Homo sapiens: one gene and its partner. The protein of the gene in region 1 interacts with the protein of each later gene in a biochemical or structural test. Each region holds a gene or a part of one and is shown on either strand. Other genes may lie near its edges.

Evidence for each region.
Region 2: the proteins of GRAP (region 1) and KIT form a complex in vitro, tested with the Homo sapiens proteins (one study listed by BioGRID).

What each region holds. Positions count from the first base shown.
Region 1 is NC_000017.11:19,042,350-19,053,255, reverse strand, and holds the start of GRAP (GRB2-related adapter protein), read left to right. Parts: upstream 1-6,298; 5' UTR 6,299-6,329; coding exon 6,330-6,407; intron 6,408-10,906. UniProt on the Homo sapiens protein: Couples signals from receptor and cytoplasmic tyrosine kinases to the Ras signaling pathway. Plays a role in the inner ear and in hearing.
Region 2 is NC_000004.12:54,729,175-54,739,767, forward strand, and holds part of KIT (mast/stem cell growth factor receptor Kit isoform 1 precursor), read left to right. Parts: intron 1-160; coding exon 161-311; intron 312-2,153; coding exon 2,154-2,245; intron 2,246-2,696; coding exon 2,697-2,824; intron 2,825-3,895; coding exon 3,896-4,018; intron 4,019-7,323; coding exon 7,324-7,435; intron 7,436-7,546; coding exon 7,547-7,646; intron 7,647-8,000; coding exon 8,001-8,106; intron 8,107-9,254; coding exon 9,255-9,383; 3' UTR 9,384-10,593. UniProt on the Homo sapiens protein: Tyrosine-protein kinase that acts as a cell-surface receptor for the cytokine KITLG/SCF and plays an essential role in the regulation of cell survival and proliferation, hematopoiesis, stem cell maintenance, gametogenesis, mast cell development, migration and function, and in melanogenesis.

The DNA of each region.
Region 1 (10,906 bases):
ACATTTAAATAATACATTGTAGCAATTCTGGGTATGAGTCTCCCCTGACCTGGGCTTGTTATTATTTTCTTGTTTATTTGTTTAGTGACTGGCTGGATTGTTTTAGTGAAGTCTATTTCTTCCGTACGATGTTCAGCTTCTATGGTCGTTCTCAGGGGGCCCAGCTTTGAGTATGCCTGCAGTTACTCTGGGATGACAGTGGTTTTGGAAGGCTCTCTTCCTCTTTCCCTGACCATATCCAGCTGTTAAGCTATGCAAATTTTCTTTTCTTTTTTCTTTCTTTCTTTCTTCTCTTTTTTTTTTTTTTTTTGAGATGGAGTCTCGCTCTGTCGCCCAGGCTGGAGTGCAGTGGCACAATCTCGGCTCACTGCAACCTCCGCCTCCCGGGTTCAAGCAATCCTCTGACTCAGCCTCCCAAGTAGTTGGGATTACAGGCACCTGCCACCACGCCCGGCTAATTATTGTATTTTTTGTTTTTTAGTAGAGACGGGGTTTGACCGTCTTGGCCAGGCTGGTCTTGAACTCCTGACCTAGTGATCCACCCACCTCAGCCTCCCAAAGTGTTGGGATTTTAGGCATGAGCCACTGCACCCAGCCCTTCTTTTTCTAATCCTTGCTTGGTTGAAATAAGCTCTGCAAGTTGCCAATGGATTGCTTTATAATTTCCTATAATGCCCTGCACTACACACTGATCCTATCAAGTTTGGCTCCTTGGAAGAAATAGTGTGTGAGGTCAATGTCTGCTATTTGTTCTGACCTCAGGAGGGCTCCCTCTACTGGTGCTATTCCCTGTTCTCTCCTGTAAACGAGCAGCCTAGAGTTCAGCTTGTGTCTTGAATCTTCTCCTAATTATCTCTCACCATAATCTCTACTATTCTCAAAAGCACCTTTTGGGCCGGGTGCGGTGGCTCACGCCTGTAATCCCAGCACTTTGGGAGGCTGAGGTGGGCGGATCACCTGAGGTCGGGAGTTCGAGACCAGCCTGGTCAACATGGTGCAAACCCCGTCTCTACTTAAAAAAAAAAAATTAGCTGGGTGTGGTGGTAGGCACCTGTAATCCCAGCTACTCGGGAGGCCGAGGCAGGAGAATCGCTTGAACCCAGGAGGCGGAGGTTGCAGTGAGCGGAGATCGCATCACTGCACTCTCAAACAAACCTAACCAAAATCAAAACAAAAGCAACTTTTGCCTTGAATTCCTTCGTTCTCTGTAGCAAATGAGGTCAGTTGCTTTGGGAAGAGATTAGGAAGTCTCTTTTTTATGGCCTGTTTCTTCATTAGACAAAAATCTCTCTGAGCCAGGGCCCTGGAGCTGGGGGTGGAGACTTTGGAAAGCTTCTCTCTGAGTGACACCCTGCGCTAGGGGCTGAGGACTTGGTGGGAGTGGGGACAATGGCCGAGGTCCTCAAAGTTTGCCTCTCCTGTTGTCGAGCTACTTCCACATGAGCCAGGGCCGGAGTGATCAGGACCCCAGCACTCGCAGCACACTGCACCCAAGGCAGAGCCTCTGTTCCTTGAGTGGGGCTGGGTGCAAGAAGGGGGCCCCCAACTCTTGGCTACACTCATCCAGGACTTAGTCTCAGCAACAGGTGGCTGGGGGTAGAATAGGAAATGGATGTCCTGTTCTTCGTGGGAGGCAAGCCCTCCCACTGGGAGCTGGGGGCAGAGGGAGCCCTGTTTCCCTGGTCTGGAGGCAGCAGGGGACCCCATGTTCTTGGCTGCAGCTGTCCAGAGTGGAGTCTCAGCCTCACTGAGCTGAGAGGAAGGGCAAGAGGGGCCATGATCTCAGTGCAAACACCATGGCCTCACCTTTTTAAACCAAATATTCATAGATGTTCATGAATCCATGTTTCTTCATTTGCATTTTCTTTTTTTTTTTCCAGACAAAGTCTCGCTCTGTCCTCAGAGGCAGGAGTACAATGGTGTGATCATAGCTCACTATCACCTTGAAATCCAGGACCGAAACGATCCTCCCACCTCAGCCTCCTGAGTAGCTGGGATTACAGGTGAGAGCCACCATGCCTGGCCTATTTTTGTTGTTGTTTATTTTTGTAGAGATGGGTTCTCACTATGTTGTCCAGGCTGGTCTTGAACTCCTGGGTTCAAGCATTCCTCCTGCTCCAGCTTCCCAAAGTGCTGGGATTACAGGTGTGAGCCACCATGCCTGGCCTGTTTCTTCATTTTCTTTTCTTTCTTTCTTTCTTTTTTTTTTTTTTTTCTGAGACAGAGTCTCCCTCTGTCACCCAGGCTGGAGTGCAGTGGCACGATCTCTGCTCACTGCAATCTCCACCTCCCAGGTTCAAGTGATTCTATTTCCAAGTAGCTGGGACTACAGGCGTGCGCCACCATGCCTGGCCAATTTTTGTATTTCAAGTAGACACAGGGAGGCGGAGGTTGCAGTGAGCTGAGATCATGCCACTGCACTCTAGTTCAGGCAACAAAAGCAAAACTCTGTCTCAAAAAAATTTTTTTTCAGGGAGTTCTCTCAGGTGTTTCAGCCAATCTCTGATGATAAAAAGTTCCCCAATCAGCCTGTTTGGAGTGTTCCAGGGTCCAGTAGTCTAGCCCAGTCTACTAATTACAGAACTCAAACTGCATTGAAATTGCAGTTTCCATCCAATCTCACGACCCTTAACATAATCGCACCGGCAAAGTCCCTCTTGTCATATAAGGGAACGTTCCAAGTTCTTGAGATCAGGACCTGGATGTCTTCGGGGCTGTTACTCAGCTGATCACAGGGGGTTAGGGTTTCAGCACTGAGACAGTGGCTGGGTCTGCCCTGGCCTGGTGTGGCCTGTGGCCAGTGATGAGTTTTCCTCCTGTGAGCAGCTTTTGAGGGACCTCCATAAACCAAAACCAAAATCCTAAGCCCCTTAACCATCCAAATGGACTCCTTCTCTCGGCAAGGGCATTCCAAAGTTAACCTGAAAATGAGTTCAGGATATGATGGGAAGGGGGAGCTGGACATGCCTTGTTATAACCTCCTCGCTTTTGGAATTACTGTTAGAACGGACTCTTTCAGTCTGATAAGAAACATTTACACTATATTCTCTCTGAAGCCAGCTACCTGGAGGCTTCATCTGCATAATAAAACCTTGGTTTCCAAAACTCCTTATTTTGTTGTTTTTTTGTTTTTTTTTTTTTTTGAGATAGGGTTTCTCTTTTGTTGCCCAGGCTGGAGTATAATGGGGTGATCTCGGCTCACTGCAACCTCCGCCTCCTGGGTTCAAGCAATTCTCCTGCCTCAGCTTCCCAAGTAGCTGGGATTACAGGCGTGCGCCACCACTCCCGGCTAATTTTGTATATACATTTTTTGAGATGGAGTTTCACTCTTGTCGCCCAGGCTGGAGTGCAGTGGCATGATCTTGGCTCACTGCAACTTCCGTCTCCTGGGTTCAAGTGATTCTCCTGCCTCAGCCTCCCAAATAGCTGGGATTATAGGCACTCGCCACCACGCCTAGCTAATTTTTTATTTTTAGTAGAGACGGGGTTTCACTATGTTGGCCAGGCTGGTCTCAAACTCCTAACCTCAGGTGATCCACCTGCCTCGGCCTCCCAAAGTGCTGGGATTGCAGATGTGAGCCACCGTGCCCAGCCTAATTTTGTATTTTTGGTAGAGACAGGGTTTCACCATGTTGGTCAGGCTGGTCTCGAACTCCTGGCCTCAAGTGATCTGCCTGCCTTGACCTCCCAAAGTGCTGGGATTACAGGCATGAGCCACCGCGCCTGGCCCAAGCCTCCAGTTTCCGATGGCCCCTCGTTCCAGGCCCCAGCGTCTGCCTCATTTGGGGTGCTGCATTCTTCAAGGGTCCTCTCAGTCAAGTCCCATTTGTGGGGTCCTCTCTGGTCTCCCGGAATCAGGGCAGATTTACCCTCCAACAAAGCTTTGCTGCTTACCTCACTGCACTCCTTGAGCTCACTGTACAGTAGGCAGCCCAGGCTCCCAGCTCTGGCCCGAGCCACCTTGGGCAGGAATCCTTCGGGTTGAGGCCATGCGGCGAAGGAGTTGTAGGCATGGTTTGGCCCTCAGGCCTGCCTGGGTTTGAACCCCAGCCCTGCCACCTACCAACTATTGGTCACTTACCTCTTTGTAAAGGACTTGGCAGAGAATAAATACTTCTAAAACACATAAAAATAAACCCGGCATCTGTCCCACCGCCCCAGGGGACACCCATTCAGCTTCATAAGGGGAAGTCCTCCTCCCCTCATATGGCTAGAAGCACCTCAGAACTGAGGCGGGGGCCGATCCCAACCCCTCCATTGCATCATTCTGAGGCTTTGAAACCTCAGCTGCAACAGAGCCGGAAAGAGGGGCCTTATAACATCCTGTCACCCTTGGGGTCGGGGGCAGCCAGAAGGCAGGGGTCTTTGAGTAGAGGGCAGCGTGGAGAAGCCCTGGAATGGAGCTGGGTGAGGCCAGGGCCAGCTCCATCCTGCCTGGTTGGCTCAGGGACTCCAGAGTGGGCGGCGGGCAGCTGTCATCTTCTCTTCTTCCCTCTCAACTATTTTTTTTTTTTTTTTTGAGATGGAGTCTTGATGTGTCACCCAGGCTAGAGTGCAATGGTGCGATCTCGGCTCACTGCAACTTCCATCTCCCAGGTTCAAGCGATTCTTCTATTATTGGCCAGAAGGTCAGGGTGTGTTCATAGAATGATGGGTCCATGTCAAAAGGATAAGGAGACAGCTTGAAGGAGACCCCACTGGCCTAATCAGGGGCATTTTAAGCATCAAAATAAATGTAATAGTAATGGATTATAATCCACTGGCTAAAATATGAAACCATGAGCCTATATTAATATAAATGAAGGAAGAAAAACTTCTTTACAGAAAAAAAACAATGTGACTTCACACTGATTCATCCAGTGTCCATGCAACACCACAGGGCTCTGCCTGGTTTTCCTTCCACGTCTGTGTCTCCCTTCTTTCCCAGGGAGAACCCTGGTTCCAAACAATACAGCTGTGCTTGTCCATTTGTGCGCTATCCTGCAACACTTGCAAAACAGTTTCAGAATTGCTACACCGATAACACTGCTCATAACAAACCCACTAAGGAAAGGTAGAGATTTATTTACAATTCTCTTTTTTTTTTTTTTTTTTTTGAGAAGGAGACTCGCTCTGTCACCCAGGCTGGAGTGCAATGGCGCAATCTCAGGCAGGAGGATCGCTTGAGTCCAGGAATTCAAGACCAGCCTTGGTAACATGGTGAAAACCCATCTCTACTAAAAATACAAATAATTAGCCAGACATGGTGGTGGGCACCTGTAGTCCGAGCTACTCTGGAGGCTGAGGTGGGAGGATTGCTTGGAGCCTGGATGGATCCTTGGCTCACTGCAGCCTCTGCCTCCCGGGTTCAAGCGATTCTTGTGCCTCAGCCTTCCCAGTAGCTGGGATTACAGGCACATGCCACCATGCCAGGCTAATTTTTTGTATTTTTATTAGAGATGAGGCTTCACCATGTTGGCCAGGCTGATCTCGAACTCCTGACCTCCAGTGATCCGCCCATCTTGGCCTCTCAAAGTGCTGGGATTATAGGCATGAGCCATCGCGCCCGACCTACAAGTCTTGTTGACCTTAGGATTTAAGTCCCACCTAAGGTGCCCAGTGTCTAAACCAGAAGAGGTACCTTCTGAGCTGGTCTTTGATGGATGAATAGGAGTCTCCTGGGAGCAGAAAGAGGAGAACACCAGGCAGAGGAACCACGTGTGCAAAAGTCTGGGGTTGAAATGAGAGTTTGGTGTGGCCCCTTGCTGTGGCTGAAGCCCTGGGTTTGTTTAGAGTGAAGGGGATGACAAAGGATGAGAATGGGGGCTGTTTGTAGGGGCAGGTGGAGGTGGTGGATTGCAAGGGCCTTGAATGCCAGGTGAGGAGCTTGGGATTGAAGGAGCAGGAGGCAGGGCATCACAAGAGGCATCAGGGTTTAGGAAAAGATGGAGAGTCATTGGCAGATTGGTGAAGGGAGGCCAGCATCTGGTGCCATGAGACTCAGTGCCTGAGCCAGCAGGACAGCTTTGGCACTTCTCCTCCAGGCACCTCACTTTTACGGATGATAAAACATGGGCACAAGGGGGCCCCACTCCCAGAGCTTCAGGGAGACTCCCCAAGGGCCATTCCTGGCACCTGGGGTCTGAGGTAGGGACAGAGCTGGCTCACAAGCCCTCCCTGCTCTGTGACATGTCTGTTTCCTGTTTCTCCCCCATCAGGAGCAGTTTCAGTCTCAACTTCAAAAGAACAAACGCGCACTCAAAACAAAGGAAGACCGTCCTCGACTGCAGAGGAAGCAGGAAGCTGTCGGCCCAGCTCTGAGCCCAGCTGCTGGAGCCCCGAGCAGCGGCATGGAGTCCGTGGCCCTGTACAGCTTTCAGGCTACAGAGAGCGACGAGCTGGCCTTCAACAAGGGAGACACACTCAAGGTAGGGGGGCTGGAGCCTGCTGAGTTGGCCCCACACGGGGTGGGGGTGGATTTAGGAACCAGGGACCTGGGACTGTCCCAAGCAGACTGTGGCCCCTGGAAGACAGGCCCAGCCTCTCCAGTTATTGGCTGTGTGACTCTGGACAAGCCACCTTTTCCCTCGGAGCCTCAGATTCTCCATCTAGGAAATGGGGAGATAACTAATGACCCTCCTTTGGGGCTGTTGTGAGGATTCGATGAGATATTACCACAGTGTCTGGCAGGAGTTAGTTCAACCCCCAGTTTTCCAGGAAAAAGTTTGAAAAGAAAATTGTTGAGAGAGGGAGAGAATGAGAGCTAGAGAGAGAGACAGAGTATGGGAATGGAGAACAGAGCGAGAAAGAGGGAGAGAGAGAAGGTCTTAGGAAAGAAATAAGTACACATGCTAACCTAGTAGGGCTAAAATAGCTAAGATGAAAGTGTCAAGGATGAGCTTCCCAGTAGTGTGGAGAAAAGGGAAAATAGAGTCATACCACCGTTCATTTCTCCTTGTCTGGGCCGCTTTTGACAGATGTTGCAGCCTTCCAAGACGGTCTAGACAGTTGGGCCTGTGGAATGTGTCTCTGGAAATGTCCTTGCTTAAAAGTTTGCATATGAAAGCCATGCCCAGGATTCTGGGAGTGGCCATGCCAAGACGTGTGCACTGGAACTGCCAGTAAACCACACTAGGGAAGTGACTGCCCTTCCCTGGGCCTCAGTTTCCCCACTGGAGCAATGGGTGTTAGACTGGATGCTCCTCTGCGCTGAGCCCTGGGCGCTGCCCTTGGCCACAAGCTTCAAGCACAAGACGGGAGAGCTCCCTGTGCCATCACCCTGCTATAGCCAGGCCCCGAACTCAGCAGCACACCTCATGTACCATTTAAGCAATGGGGACTGGCACCCCCATTTCACAGGTGACTAAACTGAGGCACAGGGAGGCAACATGACCTGCTCGGTATGGAGTCAGTTTTGAACCCGTGTCCCTTTGGCTGTGGAACTTGCGCTTGGTCTGAACAGGCTGGGCTGGGGGTTGGGGTCCAGAGGAGGAGGAGCAATTCCTTCTTCTCTATGCTGGGGTGCTGGTGCTGGCACCTGGGGTCACTGCAGTGCTGGCTGTCGGCCTCGTGGACATGTGGCCAGATGGGGACAGGGCCAGGCTGAGCACTGGGGCTGTGAGCCCAAGGCATGACCCTCTGCGGGGATCCAAGTCTTGGTTTCTCATCTGAGAGCACTTCGAGGTCTCTAGACCCAAGTGTGGTGTTGGGAGGGAGTGGGGCAGTGATGAAATAGGAATGGGGTGCGCGGGAGGCGTTGAGCCAGGCTTGGAGGGATCAAGTGGCTGGGGTGGAAGCTGAGCTCCGCGACCATCCTGTCCTCTCGTCTAGCAAGTATTTTCCAGTGCTCCCTGTGGGCCAGCCCCTGCCATGGCACTGCCTGCCTACAGATTGAGTCCAGCCTGGGAGAGTGGGCGATGAAGCCCGTTCTTGAAATCTGAACTTTGGTCTTGGATGAAAACTCTGGCTCATGGACTCACCCTGGACAAATGGCCCCAAACATCACCTCCCTGGGACAAAGCCTCCCTCCCTGATAGGCCAGGCGTTTCTGGGTGCACGCACCCCCATGCTGTTGCCAGCTGGAGGGGCATGTGGTTAGTGGCTTCACTCCCATCTCTGCACGAGCAGCCTGGATGATGAGACCCAGACTCAGGAAGCCCATGTCACCTTGACATCTCCATGGGAAAGGGCGACGGTCCAGACCCAACACAGCCAGCCCTGGGCTCCCTGAACCTACTTTCTGCTGCCTGTCATTGTCTTGTCGGCAACTCTGGCAAAACCTACCCGAAGCCCCTCCTCCAGCCCAGGCCTCCATTGTCACTTACCTGGGCTTGCGTGGTGGCTCCCAAGGCCTCCCCGCAACAATCCCTGCTCCCCAGCCCAGTCTCCATGCAGTGGCCATGACTCAGAGCCTGGTCCTCCCCCGTACATCTTATGACATCTGCTCCTCCCTCCCTCAGCTCCAGACACCCTGGCCTCCTTTCTGTTTCAGGGACAGAGCTTGGCCCCACCTCAGAGCCTTGGCACTGGCTGTTCCGTCCGTCTTGGACACTGTTCCCCACATTTTCTTACCGCTGGTTCCTTCTTGTAATTCGGGTCTCAGCTTCCATGTCACTTCTTCAGAGAGGCCTTTCTGGACCACCCCACCTGTCCCGTGTTGACAATCTCCCTGCTCCCACCCAACCAGACATTCTCCATCTGTCACCTGATGTCCATTTTTCACAGCGCTTACTGCTCCATTAAACTACCTTGCTTATTTGTTTCTTCCCTTGTTTATGGTCTGTCTCTGCCTACTAGAATGTGAGCTTCTTGTTCCCTGCTCTGTCGTGGGGTGCCTGGCACACAGTAGGTGCTCAGTAAACAACTATCAAGCAGCAACTGCATCGGGCTGGGATGGTAAAGTGGGGCGGCAGCCTGGGTGGAGGGCACCATGTGGGCAAAGGCTCAGGGGCAGGCCAAGTTCTGCCTCTCACCTTGAGCAGTGATACTCCTCCAGGGAGGAGTTGGCCTCTCTCCCTTGTGAGAATTCCCGGGTCTCAGAGGGTCTGGGGCTTTCAAACAATGTTCACAGTAAGAAATCAGTTAACGTGAGGTCAAGAGATCGAGACCAGCCTGGCCAACATGGTGAAACCCCATCTCTACTAAAAATACAAAAATTTAGCTGGGCGTGGTGGCACACACCTGTAGTCCCAGCTACTCGGGAGGCTGAGGCAGGAGAATCGCTTGAACCCAGGAGGCAGAGGTTGCAGTGAGCTGAGATTGCGCCACTGCACTCCAGCCTGGTGACAGAGTGAGACTCCATCTCAAAAAGAAAAAAAAAAAGAAAAAAGAAAAAGAAATTAGCTAATGTAACCAATGGGACATTCCTGAGTCCTCTGAGTGCAGATGACAAGGAGACAAAACGAAGCAGGGACTGCATGAGACGTATTCCACCCAGTGTCCGCACTGCTGCATGCAGGGCAGGCCATAAATGCACCCATTGGACAGACGAGGGAGGACACTGAGGCCAAGGCCACAGAGAGAGTCAGAAGCAGACAGAATGTTCTGGAGCCCCAGGCTTCAGGGCATCCTCCTGGAATCCATGGCTGTGGTATGTGGCCTACAGGCCCTCATTTTCTCCTTAGGTTGGGGGAGTTGTTTTGTTTTTTTGAGACGGAGTCTCACTCTGTTGCCCAGGCTGGAGTGCAATGGCGCGATCTCGGCTCACTGCAGCCTCCAGCTCCCGGGTTCAAGTGATTCTCCTGCCTCAGCCTCCTGAGAAAGTTGGGGATTATGAGAGTGTGCCACCATACTTGGCTAATTTTTTTGTATTTTTAGTAGAGACGGGGTTTCGCCATGTTGGCCAGGCTAGTCTTGAACTCCTGACCTCAGGTGGTCCACCCTCTTCAGCCTCCCAAAGTGCTGGGATTACAGGCGTGAACCACTGCGCCCGGCCTGTTTTGTTTTGTGTTGAGCGAAAGTTTTCCTGAGTCAGCCACCTGCTTCCGTTCACCCCTGGGTCTGCTGACCTGGCCCAGGCTGCAGGGGCAGGAAGGAAGAGGCTCAGCCAGCCTGGCCTGGTGGACAAAGCGGGGGTGGAGATGGGGGTGCAGAGGCCACCTGTGAGGGTGGGGCCTCAGGCCTGGGCCCTAGGAGGCCAATCCCAGCTACTCTTGGCAAAATATCACTGCTGGAGTTGATGCCCCTGTATTGGCCCGCCCTGGGCCTTTGGTACCCCGTGCCCAATTTTTTCTCTCAAGTACCCCTGAAGGATTGAGCTGACATTGGAACCTGCTCCAGGACTGACAGGAGAGATGTCCCCTCACAGGAGAGATGTCCCCTCAAGCTGGAGTCCAGTGACAAAGAGGACTGGAGGCAAAAATTGGTGGGCCAGGACCCCCTTGACCAGTGAGCCAAAAACTCCAGGCCTCAGAGTCCTGACTGACCAAACAGGCTCTGCCTCTCCCCTGCTGCGTGGCCTTGGCCAAGTCACTTCCCCTGTGGGCCTCAGTTTTGTTATTTGTAAAATAGCATTTGGTGATGTTGACCTTGGGGGCTATATGAGAATCAGGGGGACAGACGGAAGGCGTGCCCAGGGAATGGAGGCAGGACCCCCGGCCTCATGCTGTGCCCCTCCCAGGCCCGGCCCCGCCCCCCGCCTTGGTCGCTTGGTTGCTCCCCCTCAGGGACTCCCACCCCGGCTCTGGCTATTTCAGTTCCTCCGGGCCCACCTGTGGTGTGATGGGGGCCTCACAGGCTCGGAAGAGGAGCCCGTGTGACCGAGCAGGCCATGCCAGGGCTGAGAACCAGTCTGTCTCAGACCAAAGGCCCCCTTATCTGCTCCCCAGAGCCTGACGTCCCCCCACTGAATTGTCACCCCTGAGCTGTCTAAATGCGAGGGACCCTAGGTGACCACTGGTGGCTGTGCTCAGGCCGGGTCCCCCGACCT
Region 2 (10,593 bases), on another chromosome or scaffold:
TGATAAGCAGTGTTAATATATGGGATTGTATTGGGACTAAGTAGTCTGATCCACTGAAGCTGAATATTAATGGCCATGACCACCCTTGGGTATTTTTATGGGAGGCAGAATTAATCTATATATCTCACCTTCTTTCTAACCTTTTCTTATGTGCTTTTAGGGCCCACCCTGGTCATTACAGAATATTGTTGCTATGGTGATCTTTTGAATTTTTTGAGAAGAAAACGTGATTCATTTATTTGTTCAAAGCAGGAAGATCATGCAGAAGCTGCACTTTATAAGAATCTTCTGCATTCAAAGGAGTCTTCCTGGTAAGACTGATTTACATAAATAGTTAGCTGTTGACAGGCAGTTCATGGGGTCATAAGGGTTTGCAATCAAGGCTGATTCTTTAAAAAATGAACTGAGGTACTCTGAGGTATGAAATCAAAATTATTAAATCATTTAAATGTGATTAACAGTTTAGAAAGTTAAATTGTGTTTTTAAAGATTCAAACCTAGATTTTTGCTGATTTTTTAAAAATGTATTTTCAGTTTTCTTCTACACTTTAGTTCCATGCAACTGAATGCATTCTATATCTGTTTCTCTTACGGTTCTGTCCTGCATGTATTTCCATTTATACTATTGAGCTTGGTACTACATGCATGTTTCCAGTGAGATACTGTTTATAGGGAAAATGCTAAAGCCTCTCAAGTTGCCACAGTAAAGTCCCTTTAAAACCTTTAGCAGAATGACAAAGAGCTCTGAACATATCTCCACATGTAGGCTTCTTGCCATCGACCTCTGGATTATTCCTGTATACCTTGCCTCTTGCCCTTTTTATTTCATCATGCTATTAAAAGACATAACTACTCCAGCACATTTTTTAAAAATTCTGGACATTATTCTCATCTCTTTCATCATTGATGCCATTCTGAATTTGAATCATGTATAAAGAGCTTTGAGTTTGACTTACAACCAGAAAAGAATTCTTCTCATATCTTGCCTATTCTTTCTTTGGAAATGCTCTTAAGGGCCACCATTTGAGAAGACTTCCTAGATGTACCCAGTCCAACAGAAGTCATGGTTATTTTGCCCAGTCCCCTATACTGTATATTGCTGCAGTTGTGTGGTAGATTTCTCCTATCCTTTTCATGCACTTTATATCCACTGCATCTTGCAATGGCAAGACATTGCCTCCTGAACTCTTAACACCAGGTCCTCAAGGAGACCTCAGTAAATATTATTGATGGGCAATTACCCCTTAAAGCCATTTTCTGTACCTCTGGCTAAAGTTTAAAACCCCAGGTGAAACTTTTTATTTTTTTTTAATCCTATAAACTTGAGTAGTTTAAAGTGGTAGTAGAAACTGTACAAAACCACTTTTTGTTAGTTTCTCCTGGGCATGTGCTCATTATATGAAGAAATGAGCCATTTTGCTTCTTTCCGAAACCTTGGCCCTATATATATCCTTTAACTTTCTGATATAATGGCCTAAATTGTTCAATCCTGTGTGATGTTCTTTGTGCTTTGGGATCCCATATGGGATTGGAACCACCAGCACACTCTGAAGGAGATTGTTGTCATGGTGTTTCTATGCTAATCAGAAGCAGGAAGTACTAGAAATCTTGAAGAGTCTCCAGCCAAATGTTGCAGATTGAAGAGGTCCAGATGGTTCAGAAAATCATCCAAATTATTGGTGTTTATCTGAACCAACTTGATTTTTTTTTAAACCTTCCTCCATCAGTCACTATATGTTAACGATCTCTGCCTCCTGCATAACACGTCTTGGAAGCTCTTCTTTGTCTTTCTTTCATCTTGTCTCCTGGGGCTCATTTAGAGAGTTTGAGGTAATACGGGATACCATATTTGGCTCTCTGTCTCCCATTAAATTCATTGTGTCAAGAGACGGGAAATTTCTAACCTGAGTCCTCTATATGATTATACACAAAAAGGACACCTAGTTTCTGGGCATGGACCCCAATATCGATTATTAAAAACTCATTTCTTACAGAACAGGATTTTCAAACTCTTTATTCAAACTTTACATGACTTTCCTCAAATTGGTCCAGTCTATTATGTAGCAAAGGGGATGAGGAGGTAGAGCATGACCCATGAGTGCCCTTCTACATGTCCCACTTGATTCAGTCATGACTTGTTTCATCTCTCCCAGCAGCGATAGTACTAATGAGTACATGGACATGAAACCTGGAGTTTCTTATGTTGTCCCAACCAAGGCCGACAAAAGGAGATCTGTGAGAATAGGTGAGTACCTACCTATCAAGCAACCAAGAGTAACTTTACAGAGAGTATGTATATCATGCTAATGTGGAATATAACATCATTCCCAGTAGCAATGATGCAGACCAGTTCTGCTTTATGGTAGCAGTGCCAATGGTCAATGGCAGTTAGGGTTGCAAGTGGGTGTTTGGGGTCAGAGCATATGTTTTTGTGCCTGAGTATCTTTCTATAGATATGGGATCTTTGCTTTAATTCGCCATCCCTCTCCTCTATGGATTTTGTAACCCAGCCTAGGATTGTTAAATATTAACTTTGTGATTCAGCATCTACCTTTCCTGGACACCAGGGAAGTGATCTGCCTGCAAGTTCACATTAGTTCATTCATTACCAGCCTTTGGTATGTCATTGCCACTGTCTTTTCCTTTCCTGACCTTTATGGTTGTAATTGCTAAGAAAAATCCTCTCTTCCTCACAGGCTCATACATAGAAAGAGATGTGACTCCCGCCATCATGGAGGATGACGAGTTGGCCCTAGACTTAGAAGACTTGCTGAGCTTTTCTTACCAGGTGGCAAAGGGCATGGCTTTCCTCGCCTCCAAGAATGTAAGTGGGAGTGATTCTCTAAAGAGTTTTGTGTTTTGTTTTTTTGATTTTTTTTTTTTTTTTTTTTTTTTTGAGAACAGAGCATTTTAGAGCCATAGTTAAAATGCAGAATGTCATTTTGAAGTGTGGTAACCAAAAGCAGAGGAAATTTAGTTTCTTCATGTTCCAACTGCTGTCTCTTTGGAATTCCTGTTCTAATTTATAAGCTGTAAAGTACAAGCCTGTCTAAATGAGTTTTTCTATGAATATTCTTTTATATGCAGTGAAATTCTTTTAAAACTTTTGGCTTTTAGGATATAGGATATGTTCCTAGAGAACAGAATCATTTTATCAGTAAAAGCAGAGGGCACCTCATAGTTACAAGGCTTGGGGTGAAGCATAGACTTGAGTTTTATTGAAGTTAGATCCAAATATTATATGTGTGGCTTATGAAGTGTCAGGAAATAAGGGGTCAGAGGGAGTAATAAACACTTGGGAGAAGGTTAGGAATGGAAAGAATGATGGAACCAAAACAAGGAGCATGGTCTGTGGAAGGGTGAAAGGAGTTCCTTAGGAAGTAAGATTAACCGAACAGAATGAGTTACCAGTCCTACCCTTAAATGTCATGGGTGACATTTCCCAACAATTACCAAACTAAGAAAGGATATAAGATGGCTGAAATAAAGACCTTCTTCCGTGTGTCCTTGGGAGATGTCAGATTGAATTTGCAAAGGCATATTAGGAACTCTGTGAAAGGACATTCAAAGAGATGCATGCAAAATGAATTTTCAGTTTAAACAATATGATATGACTATTTCTTATGTATTTCCCTATGAATGAAAGCAGTCCTGAGAAGAAAACAGCATTTATTAGAATTGCTTTTAAAAGAGATTATAATAATTAGACTCTTGATTATGTGAACATCATTCAAGGCGTACTTTTGATTTTTATTTTTGGTGTACTGAATACTTTAAAACAAAAGTATTGGATTTTTTATAATATAAGCAACACTATAGTATTAAAAAGTTAGTTTTCACTCTTTACAAGTTAAAATGAATTTAAATGGTTTTCTTTTCTCCTCCAACCTAATAGTGTATTCACAGAGACTTGGCAGCCAGAAATATCCTCCTTACTCATGGTCGGATCACAAAGATTTGTGATTTTGGTCTAGCCAGAGACATCAAGAATGATTCTAATTATGTGGTTAAAGGAAACGTGAGTACCCATTCTCTGCTTGACAGTCCTGCAAAGGATTTTTAGTTTCAACTTTCGATAAAAATTGTTTCCTGTGATTTTCATAATGTAAATCCTGTCTAGGGATATCACACATTTTAGCAGTCAAATTAAGTATACTTCAGCAAAATTTGCATGGTATGCTGAACATTACTACAACTAACATTCAATAATAGAAGTCCTAATTCTAATTGTGTAATTTTGGGGCATGTGAAGGAAACAGAAATAGCCTTAATTTTCATTATAGCCTGAGAATAGCAATGAACTTGATTTTGCTCAAGTGTAACAAATGTAGGTCATTGAAGGTCACAGCAGGAGAAATTTTGGGGGGATTGGCATGCCGTGTGAAAAATATTAAAATCTAAGATCATATTCAGAGTTAGCCATATAGAATGTTGGATCCTAGAATACACGGAGAGCTATTAAATAGGTTCATAAGTAATAATGGGTTTGTAGAACATAGCAAATGTTTTTCAAAGTGCTGTATTTCCTTGCCAATTTTTATTGAATCCTCAGAACAAACCCTTGTCCTATAATTGCAGCACCTTCCTATTTTAAAAGTTGGAGAAACTAAGGCATGGCATATTTTAGTGCTTTTTATCTGAGGTGACACAGGACAATAGAGGCTGAAACTAGAGCCTGTGATTTCCAGAGTGGCATCCCATCGCCATGGAAAACCATATTGCCCTTTATAATATTCTCTGCCTGTCTTCCTGGGCCCATTTCTGCAGTCCAGATTTATTCCTGGAGGTGGATTTTTGTGCCCCTTATGATAATGTAATGTTTTCCCCCCATCACTGTGGCGTCTCTATTGGTAGCCTGTACTCGATTTGGTTTTGTAAGAGTGTTTCTGTGTTTATCTCCTGGCCAAAGCATGAATTTCTGAAAAGGCTGCCCTGAAGCTAGATATTATCATCAGGAGTGATAATAAAAACAACTTCTCTTCATCCTGGTGCAATTTTGGAAGGAAGAATGATAAGTCGTTAATTATCCAGTCCTCTGAATATTGACCAAAGGGAGGAGGAAGAAGGTGGCCGCCTCCAGGCCCAGTCTTGATGAATTCTGCAATCTGTCTCCATTATTTCATGCCTGTGTAATTTTGTCAAGAGTTGTCCAATACCTCTGAATCTTTGTTTTTCTCCCCTTGGGAATAATAGTGATTCCTGACTCAGAAAGTTATGAGTTAATATATGTAAAGTGCTTATGACAGTGCCAGACATATTGTTACTATTCTTTATAGATGTCTTATTTACGATCTAAATAATCGTGACGGTGGTTACATACTGTCTTGTTATTGGTTAGTGACCTTAGTTTGAAATGACAAAGAGGGGTTGGCTCTATCAGGCTTCCAGATTGTAGACTCCAGTTCAAGTCAGTTGAACTAACCAATCACAGATCTCGCTTTCACCAGGCTAGTGGGTAAGGAGAATTTCTGGAACAAGATAAGAAGAAGGAAACTCATATATGTTACCGCCCCACATTTTTGTCATCATCATTTGAGATCTCCTTGTTGTGTCAGGTTCTCTGAAGTTCTTTCCTTTCACATGAGTTCTTCATTGTTTTTCATGTCATGGCCCCTTTTAGAGCCTGGTAAAGCCTATGGGACCCTTATCAGAACACTGTTTTCAACGCCTATGATGAAATACATAGGAATACCAAGGAAAACAGTTAAATCGAAATAGCTATGAAGATACTAAGTAAATTTGTGATATGTCAGTACATGTGTTTACTATAGAGTGTAACAGGCTCTGTTAGGTTGGTGTAAAAGTAATTGTGGGTTTTGCTATTTTTTCTAAAAACCACTGTAATTTTAGAGTGGTGATTAATGTAAATATGATTTTGAGATACCTATAAAGACTTAATAGGATATGAAGATATTTATGATTACTGTTCATGACAAAGTCACAGGTACAGCTGATACTACTGCGTTTTATCACCTTTGTTAGTAATTTAAAGAAATGCTAAATTTCATCTAGAAATTAGCGAAAATAAGGATGTCATTTTTCCTTTCCAAGTTCACAGGCCCCTGAATTTGACACCCATAGATCTCAGGTTAGGAGCCCTTATAGGAACTTTAGCACAACATCTAGGAAGGGAAGGGATATTGGAAGTTTTTTGTTTTGTTTTTGTAAGCTGACTAAAATAACTTTAACACCAAAAAAAAAAAAGAAAAAAAAAAAAAGCTTTCCCAGTTTTCAATCCTAAATGGATTAAGAGAAGGATTGATTTAGCTTTTTATGGCAGATTAAGATTGGGAATCCAGAATGCATCTAAAAGGACTAGTTACAGAAAGTTTAGCTCAACTTTAATGGAGAGAGTTCTCCAAAGAGTCAGGATCACAAGCCACTACTGTTTATCAAGTACTTGCCTTTCTTCTAGGCAATTTTTCAGATAGCACTGAGTCAGGCGGTGCTAAGCATTTTTACCCATTTTATCTTATTTAACCCACAAGACAATTCATAAAATTAAAAGTATTCATTTTGTTTTACAGAAGAAGATACTGAGGCTTAATTACAAATATTTTAGTGACTTTCCCAGTGTATTAGAGAAAGTTTTGGGTTTTGACAGAAAACCCAAAATAAAAGAAGTCTAGGAGTAGACTTTATACCAGGATTGGTATAAAGGTTCCATGGAGTACCCGGGCAAGTCTTTCCTTTCCATGCTTAGCCATTCCTGAGTGTAACCCCCATGTCCATGGTCCAAGATGACCACCAGGTGGATAGCCAGCCATCATATCCAGAAGGCAGGGGGCCCTTGCACTAGAGAAGAGAGGGCAGAGGGCACGTGCCAGCTATATTGTAAGGAGGTTTTCCTGAAGCTGCTATACAGCACTTACAACTTAGTGGCCAAAACCGAGTCACCTAACTACAGCTAGCTAGCTGCAAAGGAGGCTGGGAAATGTAGTCCTAATTGTGAGAGGCCGTGTTTCTGTTTTTAAGGAAGGAGAGGGACATATTCAGTGGAAACTAACAAATCTCTGCATTACCTAAGGCCCATGGTGGAGCCAGGGCTAAAATGTCTGGCTGTCTCTGACGTTTGTGCTCTTAATCTCCATGCCGTACTGACATAGTGCTCACATCTTAAAATGGGGATAATGCACTTGTGAGCCATGTATTTCAGAGGTGATTGGGATCATCTGAGTTCATATAGGTAAAAGGTTTTTGTGAGATGGTACTCAAGTTATCACTCCACATTTCAGCAACAGCAGCATCTATAAGAATATCTTCTGTTCAATTTTGTTGAGCTTCTGAATTAACATTATTGACTCTGTTGTGCTTCTATTACAGGCTCGACTACCTGTGAAGTGGATGGCACCTGAAAGCATTTTCAACTGTGTATACACGTTTGAAAGTGACGTCTGGTCCTATGGGATTTTTCTTTGGGAGCTGTTCTCTTTAGGTAAAATGATCCTTGCCAAAGACAACTTCATTAGACTCAGAGCATCTTCTTGAAGTTTCATTGGTGTCCTGCTTCCTTGTGATTAACACTGCTTTGCAAACTGTGTCTCAGGAAGCAGCCCCTATCCTGGAATGCCGGTCGATTCTAAGTTCTACAAGATGATCAAGGAAGGCTTCCGGATGCTCAGCCCTGAACACGCACCTGCTGAAATGTAAGAGCCAAAAAATTTTTCCTTTAGGTCACGTTTTCCCTTTTATTTTTCTTTTTAGAGACAGAAACCCAGATGTTGAGGGTTTTCATAACACAGTTTGAAATGTCACTTGGATTCTTTATGACACACTGGTCAAATGTCATTTCTGTAGTTTATTTTCATAATCTCTTGTCACCAAAAATACAGAAAGTTTCAGTAATATTTCATACATGCAGTGTTTTATGTTATCTATATGTCAGTCCATATGTCCAGTTGCATAGCCCTGGAATTATTACTGAAGTTGCTGGATGCCCATACATTTGAAAACAAGCTGAGGGCATTGAGGAGGGATAGTAAATGGCCCTTGTCTTGCAGGTATGACATAATGAAGACTTGCTGGGATGCAGATCCCCTAAAAAGACCAACATTCAAGCAAATTGTTCAGCTAATTGAGAAGCAGATTTCAGAGAGCACCAATCATGTGAGTATACCCTGGCCAGGCATAGAATCCCCCTTCTCCCAGTTCCAGGTGTGTCCTCCTCCTCAGGCTTTCAGGGTGAGGACTAACCTCCCAACCCCTTCTCTCCTAATCTTAGGTTGCAAATTGGGCTTCAGGTAGGGGAAGTAAAGCAATGGAAACTAGTTCTTTCTGCCCAGCCCTCCTGTTCTGAGCCAAAGAAGGATGTGAGATTGAGGGGGAAGGGTGGAGAGTTTTGTACTCACTGGAAGTAGAAGTTTCCATAAGGATTTGCCATGTTTCCTCCCTCATCTCAAATGCTGGTCACGGGGTCAGTATTTTCTCCCTCTCACATGTCAGGGCCATGCATCCTTTGGAGGGTTGGGGTGATGTGAACTAGAATAAAAGCATAGAAAAGACAGCTTGTTACTGCAGTGAAATAAGCCTTCTGATCAAACAAGCATAGCCAGAAAATGGCAGATAGCTGTCATGCCCACAAGCCATATAGAATGAAGAGCTGTTTGAAGTTGGGAGATCCCTCCCAGTGATTTGGGAAGTGTGGGGGAATGAAAACTCAAATCCATTATTTCCTCTCTTTTTAAGCAAGAATTAGTGATACTTTGACTCAGATTTTTTTAAGCTGCTTTCTTTCCTGGGCTGTGTGCTTGGAGCTATCTTTTCTTTCCTAATAGCACACCACTGATAATTTTTGGGTTAAAGCTTGTTCTTCTGGGTGTCAAAACATGTTTCAAATTGAACAGCATTTTCCACCCAGTTGCTTTGATTCTTGACAAGAGACCCCTGGAAGGGCCGTGGGTTTCCCAGCAAATTACATTGGTTATTGGGTTGTAGTTGCTGGAGAGATTTACAAGCCTTTTAAATAGGTAAGATAGTGCTTGGTGCCTGGTGTGCCCTTTTAGAAGAGCTAAGCTTGTGCATGTTTTGTCCCCACTTCTTGTATAAAGTTATTTCCTTGGAAAAATGAAGGGGGAAAACAAAGCTTATATTTGTTTTGTCAGTATGACTTGGGTTTTGGCCACAAAGTTCTTGGAAACCACTTCTCTCTTAAGAGTTTCCATCAGTTAGTTGTGATCTTGACACTGTAAGTATGCCTTTTGTTGCTATGTTCGTTGTAGGGACTGCTGTATTGACTATGGGCTTGTTTTCTCCAGATTTACTCCAACTTAGCAAACTGCAGCCCCAACCGACAGAAGCCCGTGGTAGACCATTCTGTGCGGATCAATTCTGTCGGCAGCACCGCTTCCTCCTCCCAGCCTCTGCTTGTGCACGACGATGTCTGAGCAGAATCAGTGTTTGGGTCACCCCTCCAGGAATGATCTCTTCTTTTGGCTTCCATGATGGTTATTTTCTTTTCTTTCAACTTGCATCCAACTCCAGGATAGTGGGCACCCCACTGCAATCCTGTCTTTCTGAGCACACTTTAGTGGCCGATGATTTTTGTCATCAGCCACCATCCTATTGCAAAGGTTCCAACTGTATATATTCCCAATAGCAACGTAGCTTCTACCATGAACAGAAAACATTCTGATTTGGAAAAAGAGAGGGAGGTATGGACTGGGGGCCAGAGTCCTTTCCAAGGCTTCTCCAATTCTGCCCAAAAATATGGTTGATAGTTTACCTGAATAAATGGTAGTAATCACAGTTGGCCTTCAGAACCATCCATAGTAGTATGATGATACAAGATTAGAAGCTGAAAACCTAAGTCCTTTATGTGGAAAACAGAACATCATTAGAACAAAGGACAGAGTATGAACACCTGGGCTTAAGAAATCTAGTATTTCATGCTGGGAATGAGACATAGGCCATGAAAAAAATGATCCCCAAGTGTGAACAAAAGATGCTCTTCTGTGGACCACTGCATGAGCTTTTATACTACCGACCTGGTTTTTAAATAGAGTTTGCTATTAGAGCATTGAATTGGAGAGAAGGCCTCCCTAGCCAGCACTTGTATATACGCATCTATAAATTGTCCGTGTTCATACATTTGAGGGGAAAACACCATAAGGTTTCGTTTCTGTATACAACCCTGGCATTATGTCCACTGTGTATAGAAGTAGATTAAGAGCCATATAAGTTTGAAGGAAACAGTTAATACCATTTTTTAAGGAAACAATATAACCACAAAGCACAGTTTGAACAAAATCTCCTCTTTTAGCTGATGAACTTATTCTGTAGATTCTGTGGAACAAGCCTATCAGCTTCAGAATGGCATTGTACTCAATGGATTTGATGCTGTTTGACAAAGTTACTGATTCACTGCATGGCTCCCACAGGAGTGGGAAAACACTGCCATCTTAGTTTGGATTCTTATGTAGCAGGAAATAAAGTATAGGTTTAGCCTCCTTCGCAGGCATGTCCTGGACACCGGGCCAGTATCTATATATGTGTATGTACGTTTGTATGTGTGTAGACAAATATTTGGAGGGGTATTTTTGCCCTGAGTCCAAGAGGGTCCTTTAGTACCTGAAAAGTAACTTGGCTTTCATTATT